Linked DNA regions of Homo sapiens. The protein of the gene in region 2 purifies or fractionates together with the protein of the main gene of each other region. This does not show direct contact. Each region holds a gene or a part of one and is shown on either strand. Other genes may lie near its edges.

What was found. Proteins that work in one complex are often made in the same cells at the same time.
Region 1: the proteins of DNAJC12 (region 2) and MYH8 purify together in Homo sapiens (affinity purification with mass spectrometry; one large-scale study listed by BioGRID and IntAct). This does not show direct contact.
Region 3: the proteins of DNAJC12 (region 2) and CDK19 purify together in Homo sapiens (affinity purification with mass spectrometry; one large-scale study listed by BioGRID and IntAct). This does not show direct contact.
Region 4: the proteins of DNAJC12 (region 2) and MYH1 purify together in Homo sapiens (affinity purification with mass spectrometry; one large-scale study listed by BioGRID and IntAct). This does not show direct contact.

What each region holds. Positions count from the first base shown.
Region 1 is NC_000017.11:10,401,451-10,406,131, forward strand, and holds part of MYH8 (myosin-8), read right to left. Parts: coding exon 4,591-4,681; intron 3,136-4,590; coding exon 2,880-3,135; intron 336-2,879; coding exon 93-335; intron 2-92; coding exon 1-1. UniProt on the Homo sapiens protein: Muscle contraction.
Region 2 is NC_000010.11:67,796,169-67,800,188, forward strand, and holds the end of DNAJC12 (dnaJ homolog subfamily C member 12), read right to left. Parts: intron 1,043-4,020; coding exon 948-1,042; 3' UTR 501-947; downstream 1-500. UniProt on the Homo sapiens protein: Probable co-chaperone that participates in the proper folding of biopterin-dependent aromatic amino acid hydroxylases, which include phenylalanine-4-hydroxylase (PAH), tyrosine 3-monooxygenase (TH) and peripheral and neuronal tryptophan hydroxylases (TPH1 and TPH2).
Region 3 is NC_000006.12:110,808,970-110,813,650, forward strand, and holds part of CDK19 (cyclin-dependent kinase 19), read right to left. Parts: intron 1-4,681.
Region 4 is NC_000017.11:10,491,807-10,495,723, forward strand, and holds the end of MYH1 (myosin-1), read right to left. Parts: intron 3,512-3,917; coding exon 3,386-3,511; intron 3,296-3,385; coding exon 3,125-3,295; intron 2,868-3,124; coding exon 2,763-2,867; intron 2,644-2,762; coding exon 2,548-2,643; intron 763-2,547; coding exon 610-762; 3' UTR 501-609; downstream 1-500. UniProt on the Homo sapiens protein: Required for normal hearing. It plays a role in cochlear amplification of auditory stimuli, likely through the positive regulation of prestin (SLC26A5) activity and outer hair cell (OHC) electromotility.

The DNA of each region.
Region 1 (4,681 bases), on a different chromosome or scaffold from region 2:
CCTACAAAGGTTAAGAAAGAGATTATTTCTCCTATAAAGCAATTTAGTTGGTGGCAGAACCTCTATACAGTATTGTAAAATATGACTGATACCTTGTTCTCCGTGGCATGTTTCTCCTTCTCAACCTTGGCCAGTGTCAGCTCAAGGTCATCAATGTCTTTCTTGAGTTCTGAACATTCATCCTCCAGTTTTCTCTTCTTGGCTGTCAGCTCAGCATTGATCTCTTCCTCCTCCTCAGCTCTTTCAGTCACCTCTTTGATTTTGGCCTCAAGTTGGATTTTGTTTTTAATCAGTTGCTCACACCTTTCCTCTGCATCAGCCAAGCTATCTGCTTCCTATGGAGAGATTCATTCAGATACTTAGAGTCTGTTACTTATTTTGAAACTTGGTGTTTTTTTTGCGCAAAAATAATAGTGTTTTATTGAATTCTGTTGAATTTTTCAGTATGAATATAAATTTAATTTAATCGAACATTATTACATGGTCTGGAGAAATGCAGCTTATTGGAAGTGAGACTATAGCTTTAGAAGCAAACTAGTTTGCAAAGTTATTGGATTGGAGCTATTGATTATTTAAAAAATAATTTGTAGAAGAGTGGAAAGACCTCTAAATCGGGCAAAAGGAAGCCTGGGTTCTTGTCCCAATATTGTTTGCATATGTATGACTTTGGGCAAATTGCTTTATTCCTTTCATTCTCAATTTTGTGTATATATATATATGGGTTGGAATAAATGATTGCCAAGAGCTTTTCAGCTGTAATATTTAAAGATTTTGATTTAGTTAAATTGGTTAGTTTTGGTTTTGATCATTCCCTGTCCCCCTCAAACCAATAATTGCTAGGCTGTATTGAAGAAAGAAAAAGAAGAAAAATAATTTAAATACATTTCCATGTAGTATTTTTTAATACACTAAAACCTTCCTGGTAGTTCATACAGTGCTATAATTGTTCAAAATTTACATTTCCATTTACAGAATTACCCATTAGTCTTAAGGTGAATTTTATTTTTTGGAACTTTTACCCCAACTTTTATTTTGAAAACTGTTAAACTTACCGAATAGCTGTATGAATAATACAATAAATTGCCATATACCATTTACCTAAATCCTCGTATTTTTAACATTTTACTGTTTTTTCTCTCTCTAAACACACACATAGACACATATATAGGCACATGTGCACGCACACACACACACACACTCTCCTAAATCATTTGAAAGTAAATGGCAGATATCATATTTTAGCATTTCTCTCCTAAGGACATGAACATTCTCCTATATAACTACAATACTGTTATTACAAATGAAAATATTAATCACTGATACAATAATATTATCTAATATACAGTCTATATTCAGATTTCCCCAGTGTAACAAAAATGTTCTTTAAGTTTTGTGGTTTCATTGTTTCATTTTTATACACAACATGGGCAATAGGCCTAAACTGCAACATAATTTTCAGAGAGTTGTACCATTGACTAGGCTAGAGGTTCTCATGCCCAGGACAATTCTAGTTAAGGAAAGATTGATGAACTGTTCTTAGCCCTTTCTGCTTTTGTGTTTTTGTTTGCTTTTGTTTTCCCATTCCCTTCTAAATCTGGTTAATGTGGAAAGTCTATGTTGAGCCCCTGAAATTTTGAAAATGTTCAAACCCATATGTCAAGTTAGGAAAAAAAAATAGAATGAACAGTGATATGTTATGAACCTAGATTTACCAGTTGCTAAGTTATGCCACATTTGCCTTGTCCATTCCATTTGTGGCCCTCTCCCCTCTCCCAATAATTATCAAAATGAATTTTAGAATATATGAGAAAATGTAATTCTCAGAAACTGTATAGCTCAATAAAGTTTTTATAAGTGACTAATGAAAGGATTCAAATAAAAATCAATCCAGTCTAATTTATTAGGTTACCTTGGCCTGGGGAATATTTTTTAACTCCCAGTGTTTGTTTTGTTCTTGAGTTTAAAAAACGTTTAAATGGAATATAATGGGAACTTATTGGGGGATTCTTTTCTTTTTTCTTTTTTTGAGCTTTACTGCTTAATATATTTATTTTTAATAGTGATACACTCAATACATATTTACTCACTGACTAATGATAACTGTGAAAAGATGGTAAGATAGAGAGGCTATGGTCCTGTGCTTTTGGAAAAATGTAACCTTCATATAAATGAAGGTATCAGAAGGAAAAATTGAAAGTTGCTGAAAAAAAGTGGGAAAACTATCCTTTTCACAGGTTAGTTTATGATATTGTTAGGTTTGCTGAACCAAGGAAATGGGAGGTTACCTTTGACCAAAGTGTTCATGCCAAACCTACTCCCCACCCCAACTGCCCCTCCTTCCTGCACCAATAAACAGACTCTAGGAACTAGAGATTTGTATCAGAGGAAGAATCAGGAGGACACATTGCTCTGCCTGACATGCTGGTAGTTCAGTTCCATTAAATACAGATAGATTTATTGAGCTAAATCTTGGGGGTTGGGGAAAGGAGATACAGAAATAAATAAGTTTGAATTTAAATACAATCTCATAGACTTGCATTTAGAAAATAGAGCTATACTTTTAATGCTGGGCTAAAGTAGCCCAGGCAAAGGGGTAAAATATTTGACTGAGACTTGGGGGATTGGCTTTAAGCTACTTCCTTCATGGCTGTTAAATTTTGTGATATTATTTAAACAAATTCTTCAATCTTTCCTTTTCCCATTGTAACTTGGAAATAATTGTGCCTTTTCTTCCCCATAGAATACTAAAAGATAAATGAGGTATTAAAAACAGCAACTTGAGATTTTTTTTCAAGTAGAGATCATTTGTAAATCCAAAGTATATGTGTGTTTCAAAAAAGCTTCAGTAACATGGTGCATTCAGAATATGGAGTACTCACAGATTGAACCTGGAGTTGCAGGTCATTTTTCTCTTTTAAGAGAGTGACCATTTTTTCCTCTAGCTCCTTCCGTTTTGCCTCTGACTTGGCGAGTTCATCTTTGGTTTTCTGGAATTCTTCCTTCATGGTGGCCATCTCTTTCTCGGTCTCTGCACTCTTGAGGAGGGGCTTAATCTTGAAAAAGAGTTTCATCCAGGGCCAGTGCTTGACGTTCATGAAGGCACGGACATTATACTGGATGCAGAAAAGTGCTTCTCTGCGATGACATGAAAATATCAGTGTAGACTAATCCATCAGAGCCAATGTTATTGTTACTTATCACACACAAATTTCCCTTTTAATGAATGCCGCTCACAAATAAATATGTCACATTCTCTATATATTATATGCAGGCTTTACACACACACACACACACACACACATGTACACACATTCTCGCGCTCACACTCATGGTCAGTAGCCCTCAGTATAACCACTTTGCTAATATGAGTACGGTTCATATTGAGCACATCTTCTGTGTTCTCAATCCCTATCAAACTAGCCAAGAGAGTGACTTTAGGGGTGAATATTTTGAATGTATGATCAGCACATACCATTTGACATATGACAGTATTAGTGATTTGAGGGTGGGCATGGTGATTGCATGTTGATTGTGCTGCCTGTCTGTGGGCATATGGATGAGAACTGTGAAATGACATAGGTTGCCTTCTGAATGGCCCACCTAAACTGAGCGAATGATTTGTCATCTCTTCCTTGAAGTTGCTCCTCTTATTTTGAACAACACTGAATTATCCACTCTATAAACTTTTTTTGCTAGCTTCTTCAGATAATACACTGGCTTATCTCAAATTCTTTCAAGTGCCTCAGTCTTAACTGATTAATTGGATTGTTAATATTTGCGAGGCATTCAGCATCTGTTGAGCTCTAAAATTTATTTTATTGAAATAAAGTGAAAAATAGTAATAAAAGGTACCCCTACTGCAAACTATAGCCATAGACTGGCTAGGTTTGACTACTTGTAGCAATGTGTATGTTTCTTCAAGCTTGTTAAAATGGAAATTCTATCTCTATAGGTCCAGTTTTTAAGACTTGTAACTCTATGAAAGCAGATACCTTGACACAAACCATAACGTTCACACATGGGAAAGACTCAGGAACACTTCCAGTGCAGGCCTAAATGATTACAGATAAGAAAAATGAATGCACAGTGTGTGTGTAAGTAGAGGGAATGCAATAGTGTTGGGTAGATAAACTGGGTGAGATTAGTTACAGAAAGGGGAAATTAAAGTTTTAAATTGGTAAATAGATAAATTAGGATGAGGGGAGAGATGAGATAAGAAGATAAGCAAATGAGAGATTAGTAGATAAGCAAATTGTTTAGCCTGGCTGGAAAAGGCTATGTGCTTGGAAATGATAGATGAGGTGGGGAATAGAGAGGGCCTTGACAGGCAAGCAAGCAACTAGCTTGATGAAAATACTGCTTACTGCAAACTATTCCTGTGGCTGTATGTGAGATGGCTGGAGGTAGGAGAGAAGTTTTGAAAGGAATCCAAGTGTGAGAGCTGAAGCAAAGGCTGCTGTGTTGTAGGAGTGAGTTCTGAATTGGGTGAGAGGAACTATTAGCCACCAAATGAAAGAATTAATGAATGAACAAGACTGATTGATAGTCCTTAAGGGACCTTATAATTCTGATATTCTGAATGATTGTTACCTCCTTTGCAACATCTTCTGATATTCTACCCTCATTAGGAATCCCCTACAGACAGCTTGTGTTCTTGTTATAATTTGGGCTAATTTTTCAT
Region 2 (4,020 bases):
TGAGGCAGGAGAATCACTTGAACCCAAGGGACAGAGGTTGCAGTGAGCTGAGATCATGCTACTGCATTCCAGCCTGGGTGACAGAGTGAGACTCCATCTAAAAAATATATATATACATATATTTTTTTCCTCAAATAAATCATAACTTTTAAAATTAGGTTAGAAATATCTATTCAAATTATTTTTAAAATACCATCAAGGCTGGGCATGGTGTCTCATGCCTGTATTCTGAGCACTTTGGGAGGCCAAGATGGGAGGATCACTTGAGGCCAGGAGTACAAGACTAGCTTGGGCAACATAGCAAGACCTCACCTCTATAGAAAATAAAAAATTGGCCAGACATGGTGGCGTGTGCCTCTAGTCCCAGCTACTAGGGAGGCTGAGGTAAGAGGATAATTTGAGCACAGGAGTTTGAGGTTGTATTGAGCTATGATTATGCCACTGCATAGCCTGGGTGACAGAGCAAGACCCTAAAAAAAATTGAATTATAAATTCATTTATGAACTTTGGGAAAATTATTTATTTCTCCCCACGGGGTTCAGACAAGTAATTTCACATTTCATTGTAAGTCAAGGGTAAGAAAACATTTTTTGTACATCCATCACTAATAGAGATCACAGTATGTCAATGAAATATTTAAATACACTGTACAGAGATTGCTTTTTAATGGATTTCTATAAGTAGTATTAATAGGAAAAAGCATATAATACAATCTACTCTGTATCTAAGAGCTTTAATTTATTCAAATATTGGAAGAAATTCATCTTCTGAATTTTTCTTATTTAAAAAGCATTATGAGAACTGATTCAAGGATGGAGGAATCAATTAGTACTCAGCAATTCACAGACATGACATAAACATGACATTTTTAAGACATAAACAAAGACTGCATGTTGGCAGCATAGGGGACAGTCTTGCTCTTCCTCATTTTTTGAAGCAGAGATATTTCATATTTCATAGTTTCTGAACTTCCTCAGGAGTTCTGAGGGAGCATCCTTGGACCAGCGGAAACGAAGGTGCCAACCATTCACATCTGCAAAACCTTTAAAGGAAAGAAAGTAAATATTTAAAATCAGAAGTAGGAAAAGTCGATCTTGTTATAGTAAAACAGCTTGGGGATAATATTTCACTGCAGCAGGTACAATGTAAGGGTAAGACTTTGGTATGAATTATTAACATCTTAGAGAAATGGATTAACTTAAACAGACTGGAATTCTTATGAACACGAATTACAATTTATATGGATGATAAGACCTCACATGCTTAAATACTTAATAAGAGGAAATACATAGATGCCTCTGGTGGTGGGGAATTTGACAATTCACATGCAAAGAAATTTGAAACAAATTACACAGTTTTCAAAAACCTTTCAAAAGTTAAAAGTCAATGGCAAAAGGATCGCTTGAAATACAAGTACTATAATTGAATTCCATGGTAATAAGATTTTTTTTTAGTTATAATAAACAACATTGTTGAAAACCAGAGGAAAAGAAGGTAATTTTCCTTCCCTACTAGAAGTATGAATTAGCAAAACCCCTCTGGCAGGCAATTTGGCAATATTTATCAAACTCGTTAAAATGTATAAACCTTTGCCAGGCGCAGTGGCTCACGCCTGTAATCCCAGCACTTTGGGAGGCCAAGGCGGGCGGATCACGAGGTCAGGAGATCAAGACCATCCTGGCTAACACGGTGAAACCCCGTCTCTACTAAAAATACAAAAAATTAGCCGGGCGTGGTGGCGGGCGCCTGTACTCCCAGCTACTCGGGAGGCTGAGGCAGGAGAATGGCGTGAACCCGGCATGCGGAGGTTGCAGTGAGCCGAGATAGCGCCACTGCACTCAGGCCTGGGCGACAGAGCGAGATTCTGTCTCAGAAAAAAAAAAAAAAAAAGTATAAACCTTTGACCCAATAATTTTACTCCTTGAAATGTATCCTAAGGAAATAATAATGGATGCACCCAACGATTTAACTCTAAGGATGTTTATAATGATACCATTTATAAATTTTTTTTGCAAACCAAGAAACATTCTAAACTTTAGCAAATGAAAGCTGGTTAAAAGGTTTTGATATCGTCATTAACAATATCTTAATATTTACCATTATAGAAAAATGCTCACAGCATATTGCTAAGTGACAGTTAACAAAACTGTTTATATAGTATGATCTCATTCCTAAACTCATTATTTACATGAATATTTATGTGAAATTTTTTTAAGTCTAAAAAAAGAAGGCCCAGCATGGTGGCTCACGCTTGTAATCCTAGCACTTTGGGAGGCCGAGGCAGGTGCCTCTCTTGAGCTCAGGAGTTCGAGACCAGCATAGGCAACATGGCAAAATCCCGTCTCTACAAAAAAATACAAAAAATTAGGCGGGCGTGGTGGTATGTGCCCGTGGTCCCAGCTACTCAGGAGACTAAGACAAGAGGATTACTTGAGCCCCAGAGGGGGAGGTTGCAGTGAGCCGAGAGGGTGCCACTGCACTCAAGCCTGGGTAATAGAGTGACACTCTCTCAAAAAACAAACAGATAAGAAAAGGTACACCAAAATTAATAGTATTTATCCCTGGATTGTTACAATAGATGTGATTTTCCTTTTTTTTTTTTTTTTCCTTTTCTGAAACGGAGTTTCGCTCTTGTTGCCCAGGCTGGAGTGCAATGGCGCGATCTCAGCTCACCACAACCTCCGCCTCCCGGGTTCAAGCGATTCTCCTGCCTCAGCCTCCCGAGTGCTGGGATTACAGGCATGAGCCACCACACCCGGCTAATTTTTGTATTTTTAGTAGAATCGGGGTTTCTCAATGTTGGTCAGGCTGGTCTCAAATTCCTGACCTCAGGTGATCTGCCTGCCTCAGCCTCCCAAAGTGCTGGGATTACAGGCGTCAGCCACCGTGCCCGGCCAATTTTCATTTTTAATACTCTTTTTTGTTTATCTGTACTTTCTTATTTTTCTGCAATAAACATCTATGCTTTTCGTCTTTTTATGTTAATAATATTGCTAATGAAAAAGCAGGTTACAGAATAATATATAAAATACACTTCCATTGATATTTTAATATAGTATATAAATATGTAGTCAGAAAAAGCATATACAGAATAGTTAACAATGGTTATCTCAGAAAAACAGATTACACTGACACTTTTTAAAGAATTATTGGAGAAAACAAATCTGAAGAATTTTCATTTGGGGAAAAAGCAAAAAGGAAATTGTTTCTGATTGCTATAATTGTTCCTATAATTAAAACTTACTCACAAAATATGTACAGTATGATCCTTTTAGATATACTAACACAAATGAAAATATACCAAAATATCGATAATACATATTTCTCTAAATGATAAAATTATGAGTTATATGTTCTTCCTTTTGCTTGATTATATTTTCTCACATTTTATATAGTAAGTAAGTGTCATTTTTGTTTAAAAAGATGTAGTTTCTGGCCAGGTGCGGTGGCTCACGCCTGTGATCCCAGCACGTTGGGAGGCCGAGGCGGGCAGATCACAAGGTTGGGAATTCGAGACCAGCCTGACCAACATGGTGAAACCCCGTCTCTACTAAAAATACAAAAATTCGCTGGGCGTGGTAGCACACGCCTGTAATCCCAGCTACTCAGGAGGCTGAGGCAGGAGAATCACTTGAACCCAGGAGGCGGAGGTTGCAGTGAGCCAGGATCACGCCACTGCACTCCAGCCTGGGCGACAGAGCGAGACTGTCAAAAAAAAAAAAATGTAGTTTCTAGTTAGGGTTCCCGTAGAAATAGACATGCAGACAAGAACTTGAAACAGGTTGGGCACAGTGGCCCACACCTATAATCCCAGCACTTTGGGAGGCTGAGGCCAATGGATCACTTGACCTCAGGAGTTTGAGACCAGCCTGGGCAACATGGCGAAACCCCATCTCTATAAAAAATTAGCCGGATGTGGTGGTGCACACCTGCAGTCCCAGCCATTTGGGGGCGGAGGTGGGAGGATCATCTGAGCCTAGGAGGTCGAGGCTGCAGTGAGTCGTGATCACACCACTGCAC
Region 3 (4,681 bases), on a different chromosome or scaffold from region 2:
GCCGAGGCAAGTGGATCATGAGGTCAGGAGATTTAGACCATCCTGGCTAACACGGGGAAACCCCATCTCTACTAAAAATACAAAAAAAAAAAAAAATTAGCCGGGCATGGTGGTGGGCGCCTGTAGTCCCAGCTACTCGGGAGGCTGAGGCAGGAGAATGGCATGAACCCAGGAGGCGCAGCTTGCAGTGAGCCGAGACTGCGCCACTGCACTCCAGCCTGGGAGACAGCGAGACTCCATCTCAAAAAAAAAAAAAAGAAATGGGCCAGGCACAGTGACTCATGTCTGTAATCCCAGCACTTTGGGAGGCTGAAGCAGAAGGATCACTGGAGCCCAGGAGTTCGAGACCAGCCTGGGCAACACAGTGAACACAGTGAGACCTCGTCTCTACAAAACAACAACAAAAATTAGCCAGCACGTGCATCTGTGGTCCTAGCTACGCAAGAGCCTGAGGCAGGAGGATCACTTGAGCCCAGGAGTTCAAGGCTACAGTCAGCTACGACTGCACGACAGCACTCCAGCCTTGGTGATAGAGTGAGACAGTCTCAAGTGAAAAAAATGAAAAAAGAAATTTATCAACTGTTTGGAAAAGCAGTACATTTCTTAGAAAAAATACATTAGAAGTATTTACATCTAACCACCTATTTCATATAACATTACTGTATTTCAGGCTTTCAAAGCAATTACTAAAAACTTCGTTTTTTAAGAAAAGTAAATAAACTTGCGTTTTTAAAGGAATTTGGTCTGCTTTTAAAATCAGTGGAGCATCTTTACCAATTAAAGGCATTTTTAATTGAATATAATTTTGTGTATTATGTGACCAACTCTGTACAAGGCACTGGACAGAATGATGATCCTTTTGCAGCTAGTAATTTATGAGGCATATTAGTATCACTTACAGTGACTTTACATATGTAAGAACAAAGGGGTAGAAACACAGCTGAGGAGTACACCGAGTGATTAAGAGAAGGCTTCAAGGAGGAAAGCTATTTGAGTTGGGTATTGAAGTATGAGTTTTACAGGTTTGTAAGGATAAGGGAAAAGGGGGAGGGAAGAATGGCACAGCAACACCATTCTAAAGTGAATGTAGAACAAAGAAAATGAGACATGAAAGGACTTAAGTACCAGAAAATACGAGTTCAATGCTACAGAAGTATATAGCTTAAATGCAACTGGAAAAAAGAAATGGTGGCAGGTATAAAGACTACAGACTTCAGGGTCTGAATGTAAATGTCTTTACATGACAAACTAAGGAATTAAAATTGGATCTAAGTCTCAAGTATGAATCATGCAAGGAGAGAAGAGAAAGAGATGAGATTGGATCTGATAGTATAAGCCATAGCAAACGTATAGCTTTCCAAAAAGAGATATGACATGATTGATTTTATAGGAAAATGACACTAGCAGCAATTTGGATCTTGGACTATAGTGAGAGACCAACCAGCTACTATCCAAATCAGAAATAATGGCCAAAAGTGTTGACAGTGAGGATGAAGAAAAAAACAGATGAAAAGCAGCAGCATGGCCAGGTAAGGTGGCTCACGCCTATAATCCCAGCACTTTGGGAGGCCGAGGCAGGTGGATCACCTGAGGTTGGGAGTTCGAGACCAGCCTAACCAACATGGAGAAACCCCATCTCTATTAAAAATACAAAATCAGCCAGGCGTGGTGGTGCATGCCTGTAATCCCAGCTACTCAGGAGGCTGAGGCAGGACAATCGCTGGAACCCAAGAGGCGGAGGTTGCAGTGAGCTGAGATCGCACAATTGCACTCCAGCCTGGGCAACAAGAGCAAACTCCATCTCAAAAAAAAAAAAGAAAAGAAAAAAGAAAAGCAGCAGCTACATGTAGTAGAATCTACAGTCCTGCACTCCCACTTTGTAAATGTCCTGTATATGTGATAATTTCCCTTTTCCATATTTTTTTTTGGTATAAATGCACTTTTGGCATGCAAAAAGGTTTATACAGTAAGTTATCAAGACTGGAGGTAAGATGGCCTTTTTTTGTTTTTCCTCCCATGGTATTAGGAAGGAAAATGCAAGAACTCTTGAGTTAGATGTGGATTACAGGCTATCTCTGCTGTGACACTATGAGCATGACAGTTAACCTCTCAAAGCTCTAGGTTTCTCATTTGTAAAAAGAGGAAATTGAACTAGATGATCTAAAACTTTGGAAAGTTCTAATCCTCTGATGATACTGACAAATCTTTAATCTTCTGTAAGTGTCCAACAAAAATGCAAATACAATAATCTAACTACAAACCGATTGTGAAAAACCCATCAAACACAGGCAAATACTATTGTACCTATTAGCTATATGCATCTACATGTACTCATTGTGAAGAATTTCATGACATACATTAAGTTATGTAGTCATCAACCACTCATTTGAAACCCTGACAAAACAAACTCTGTAAGCTGTGTCAGCCATGCAAGGCACCACGCTCGGCTAATTTTTGTATTTTTAGAAGAGACGGGGTTTCGTCTTGTTGGCCAGGCTGGTCTCCTGGTCTCAGGTGATCCACCTGCCTCGGCTTCCCAAAGTGCTGGGATTAAAGGTGTGAGCCACGGCGCCCGGCCAACAAAAGAACTTTTTAACAATATTCCTTTATCGATCAAATTTTTAAATGTTTCTAACTGGAAAAATGCAGTCTTGAAATTTGTAACCATAAATTGTCATGTGCGACTTCTTAATAATGAAGAAAATTTATTTTATGAATTCTTGCTTGTATTAAAAAGTTCAGAAATATTCTGAACTTGTTTCTCTTCAAGAGTAACATTTGGCTGGGTGTGGTGGCATGAGCCTGTAATGCCAGCACTTTGGGAAGCCAGGAGTTCAAGACCAACCTGAACAACACAGCAAGACCCTGTCTGTAAAACGAAAAAACAAAAAAAGAACAACTTTTAAACCGGATTTTTTTTTTTTTTTAAAGTAAAAGAGAGTTGGAGGTCCAGCATGATGGCTCACACTTGTAATCCCAGCATTTTGGGAGGCTGAGACAGGAAGATCACTTGAGCCCAGGAGTTCAAGACTAGCTCTGGCAACACAGCAAGACCCGGTCTCTACAAAAAATATTCAAAAGTATAAATATTAAATAAAAAGGAGAGTTGGGTCAAAAGCCTCTCTTCCTGCAAAACAAAAAGGTGAACAAATAACTTTTTTTTTTTTTTGAGACAGAGTCTCGCTCTGTCGCCCTGGCTGGAGTGCAGTGGCGGGATCTCGGCTCACTGCAAGCTCCACCTCCCGGGTTCACGCCATTGTCCTGCCTCAGCCTCCCGAGCAGCTGGGACTACAAGTACCCGCCACCATGCCCGGCTAATTCCTTTTGTATTTTTAATAGAGACGGGGTTTCACCATGTTCACCAGGATGGTCTCGATCTCCTGACCTCGTGATCCACCCGCCTCGGCCTCCCAAAGTGCTGGGATTACAGGCGTGAGCCACCGCACCCGACCCAGAGAATATTTTTAATTAAAGGTGAAAAACTCAGATGTAAATCTTGCATTTCCAGCCTCTTATAAATTTGTGATATAATTAATATTGCCTAAAGTCATACTTCAAGGGAAATAACATTTTGCTAACTGTAGTATTAAACTTTTCTAATGATATTTTATTTCTTCTAATGTTTCTTCTAAAGACCTGAACAATGTTTTGGTTATATACTACATTATATATACCAGAATCATTTATCTTTAATGTAACCTATGTGATTTCTGGCTCCCTAAAATAGCATTATGCATTTTCTGAGTTAACCAAAATAAAATCTAGAAAGAGCTAAACTGTAATCTACCATGATCGGAGTGTAAAATCCTTTACTATGCAAATCTGCCCACTGTTTAAAACAGTAAAAAAAAAAAAAAAAAAAAATTTAACATGAACCCAAAGGACACAGATGTTCTTTCAAATTGCTGGTATCAATGAACATAAAATTAATCCCACTACCAACCCACAAGAGACGTGGGTGTTTACTGTAAAGTTGCAAATCTCAACCAGATCTTTCATCCAGGAAAAAAGCCTTTATTACGGTTTTTCTTATACGTAATACAGTGATTTAAACTAATGCTTTCAGATCCTGAGAGGTTTTTTTTTTTTTTAGAAAAAAAGCATTATATTTTGAAGACACACAAACTAATCTTACTCTAGTAAAGAAGCTTTATTAATTCTAATTAACAAATTTCACTCAAAAAGGAAGTGTATTCGAATCAAGTACTTTATTAGAGGGGAAAAATATTCAAAAAGAATAGAAGCAAGAATTATCTGGTTTTTGTTGTAAGCCCATACTATTCAAATACAATTCAGAAGCAGAATTTTTAACTTCTCAAAAGTTCCCTAATAAAAGAAAGCTATTTTAACAAAAAAAACACTAAGATACATTTTTTAAAACCAAAAGTATACCACAAAGTTAGCATGAGGAGTATGGGAAAAACCCACCTCAGATTTATTAACAATGTCCAAACGGAAAACTGGATGTGCTTTCCCCAAATATAACTGATAAAATTCCCACAAGAACACTAGTATAACAGGTGGAGTGGATATTCCAAAACCAAAATATGTTAATTATAGTATCTCACATTCCATGATAAGCATTCAAGGACACCTGGTAATTAAAGGAATTATGAGAAACAACTGAGTACCTTAAGGCCTGTTCAGTTACAAAAGAAAAAAAAAATTCTGCAATAATAAT
Region 4 (3,917 bases), on a different chromosome or scaffold from region 2:
TTTACAAAGGGCCAGAAAACCTACAGAACATGCTTCCCTCTCAAGGGATTCTAATCCCAATTAAATGGTTCATATAGTTATAGTGAAGAGTTTGCATTTTAAATATTTTTGACAGTACTTTAATCTAATTTTTAAATTTTTCTCATTTTATGTAAATAACATGTTTTAATTTATTTTTACTCAGCCTTAGGATGAAGGATTTCCTATCATTTTATGAAGAAAATCAATAATTTCATTGACAGAAACTAGCTATGTTTTGTCAAGTAAGGTTTACCAAATATTCTATGTTTTATGGCTTGTGGTATACCTTTAGGTTCACCTACTTCCTATAGGGACGCATATGGTGGCACTTACCGGGTCTGCCTAGCTGCTCTCTATCATGTCTTAATATTGGTGACTAAGCACTTTTCTGTAAAATGTAACCAAAATGTTGAGATGTTTTTCTTTTCTCAGTACTTCTAAAGACAAATTGACATAGAGGGGAAAAAGAGACTCACAAGTTTTTGGCAGATAAATTTTTTATCTCCAAAAGTCATAAGTACAAAATGGAGTGACAAAGATTTTCACATTTTGTGCATTTCTTTGGTCACCTTTCAGCAGTTAGATAAATTACTCTTCACTTATGATTTTTGTGTGAACCTCCCTGCTCTTCACCCTCAGCTTGTTGACCTGGGACTCAGCAATGTCAGCCCGTTCCTCGGCCTCCTCCAGCTCGTGCTGGATCCTGCGGAATTTGGAGAGGTTGACGTTGGATTGTTCCTCCTGTGAATGGAAATCCATTTATGAGGGAAGAAAGTTCAGAATTTTTCCATTCTTAGGTCAGTGGATCTTGAATTTCCTTTTTACTTAAAAATGATTCACTCTAGCAGATATTTTAAGAAACCTAGAGAAATGCTCTTGAATTTTTATTTTTTTTTATTTTTGCATTAGCTTCTTGAACTCATAGATAACAAGGAAGGACAGGTGACCTTTGTATCTGAACTTTTAGAACAGCAGAACATCCTAGAGCTACTACTAAATATGCCAGGTGTCCAGCTTTGTTTTTTTTTTTGTTTGTTTGTTTGTTTTTTTCAGAATCCTGAGAATGGAACCAAACCTTTTAAGAGTGCAAGTATGCAATCTATACCAAACCAAACCATTAAGCTTGAATATAAGTTATTGCCATGTGAGTATAAATTATTGCCACTTAAGTTTAGAAATTAAGCAAGAAGTTTGTTTCCTAAAATAGTCTGAGCTGTCTCTGATTATACTTAAATATATAGCAGAGAATTTGAGCAGGTCAGTTCTAGTTTAGTCTCTGGTAATCATTCTTATTTAAAAGTCTCAGTAAGAACCTCCAAAATGTGGCATTCAAATTTAGAACAGACATAAAGCTTAGAATCATTAAATAGTATAGCTTGAGAAAAAACCTCAGCTTTTCCTCTTACAGATGAGGAAAGTAGGAACTGGAGAAAGATTAAGCAATTTGTCCGAGGTATGGACAGTAGCGTGTGTGTGTGTCCGTGCACACAAGTGTGTTTGTTTTCTCTCCCTCCCTCATTCCCCTCCATTCCCATCTTTCTCTCTCTCTTACCTTAGATGTCAGGGGTAAAATAAAAACCATCAATGAACAGAGGAACTCATTTGTGATATGTAACTATGAATATTTATATGTAGGAAGTTGAAACTATTTGATTATTAATCCAGATGAATCATGGGATACGGAAATGAGATAAAGTGGAGTGTTAAGAATCTACTGATTTGAACATAACCAAGACCTTCTGAGTTTCAGAATCTTATATTTAACTATTTACTTGACATGTTCACTTGTGTATATATGGTATTATGTATCTAAAACAGAATTCCTGTTTCTTTCTTGCCCTGCAATTCTGTTCTTCCCTTTGTTCCCCACTTAAGTGTTACATCATCCACTTGGTTACTCAAACCATAAACTTGATAAATTACTCTTAATTGCCTTTCTTTCATCTCCCAAGTGCAACCTATTAGCAATCTTGTAGTTTCTACCTCCAAAATATGTCCTGAATTTCTCCACTTCTCTCTGCTCCACTCTCTTATCCAAGCCACAGAACCGACCTGAAAAGCTTCCTAACATGTCTCTCTGCACCCACTTGTGTTACCCAGTAACCGATTCTTTACATAGTATCCCAAATGCTCTTTTTAAAAAATATAGATCAGGTAGTGACTGACCCACATTAAAACCCTCCCTGGCTTCCCAGTACCTTATTGTTCTTACCATGGCCTGGAAGACCCTATGAGCTGCCTCCTGCCTGGCTCTCCAGTCCCAGTTGTGGTGCTTTCCTCCTTTTTTTGTCTGCTTCTTGAGCCAGACTCTTTCCCACTCAAAAGCTTTGCATTTGCTCTTCCCCATCTCTAGAACATCTTCTGCTGGCTTGTCAGGTGGTTGGTTTTACCTCAGCCTTGGACCTCCATGTAGCCATTTGTTTTCTTTTGATCCTTCCTCATTTTACTCATCTTTTCTTTTGTCACTTTAACTAAACTGGCCTGGTCATGTCTGAGAAAAATCACCCCAAGGGGTTGTGAACTCACCGCTTCTTCAGCTTGTCTCTTGTAGGATTTCACCTTTGCTTGCAGTTTGTCCACCAGGTCCTGGAGCCTGAGAATATTCTTGCGGTCTTCCTCAGTCTGAAATAATGTTTTCAAGAGTAAGTTTCTTGAAAGTACAAATATTACATTTTGTCATACATATGACTTTTAATCCCATGTGGACTAAAGTGAAAACCTAGACAGGCCATTTTCCTTACTTGGTAAGTGAGTTCCTTCACTTTTCTCTCATGTTTGCGTAGACCCTTGACAGCTTCAACATTGCGCTTCTGTTCACTTTCAACTTCACCTTCAAGTTCACGAACCTACAAGAAGATGGACATTTTAAGGACATTCATTTGACGAATTTCTACTTCTTCACATGACCCACATACTTCTTCTACTCTGCTTTATATGTAGTTTTTAATGCCCTAGTTCAGTTTTCCTTATTATGAGCTTTTGGGCATGAGGGAATAGCTCTCCCTCATCTCAGTATGCCCCACATCATCTAGCAGTGCTAGGTATTCAGAATCGTGTGTTGGATTGGAATGAGATAGAAATACATGCTGATTAGGAGACCCACCCTGGCCTCCAGTTTCTGGATCTGCTTCTTCCCACCCTTCAGGGCCAGCTGCTCAGCCTCATCCAGACGATGCTGCAGGTCCTTCACCGTCTGTTCCAGGTTCTTCTTCATCCGCTCCAGATGGGCGCTGGTGTCCTGTTCCTTCTTCAGCTCCTCAGCCATCATGGCAGCCTAATTAGCAGTAAAACAGAATGGGTTAAGACAGCTAAGACAGCACATTAAGATTTAAGTTTGACCACCACTGTGTTACCCTTCACTCACATCAGTGATGGCCTTCTTGGCCTTCTCTTCTGCATTGCGGGCTTCCTGGATGATGTCTTCCATCTCTCCCTGGATTTGGGAAATGTCTGTCTCCAGCTTCTTCTTGGTGTTGATCAGGCTGGTGTTCTGTTTAAAATGTGAAATTTAGAAATATTAGGCACATGAGAGAAAAATTAGGAAACCTCATGTTCTAATGAACCATAAACTAATTAACTAAATGAATTCATTAATATTCCTCCTTGTTTCATAAATTATCTGAGTTGACATATGTTTAAAAGACAATCAACTGGCCGGGCGCGGTGGCTCATGCTTGTAATCCCAGCACTTTGGGAGGCCGAGGCGGGTGGATTACGAGATCAGGAGATCAAGACCATCCTGGCTAACACGGTGAAACCCCGTCTCCACTAAAAATACAAAAAATTAGCCGGGCGTGGTGGCGGGCGCCTGTAGTCCCAGGTACTCCGGAGGCTGAGGCAGGAGAATGGCGTGAGCCCGGGAGGTGGAGCTTGCAGCGAGCCGAGGTTGCGCCACT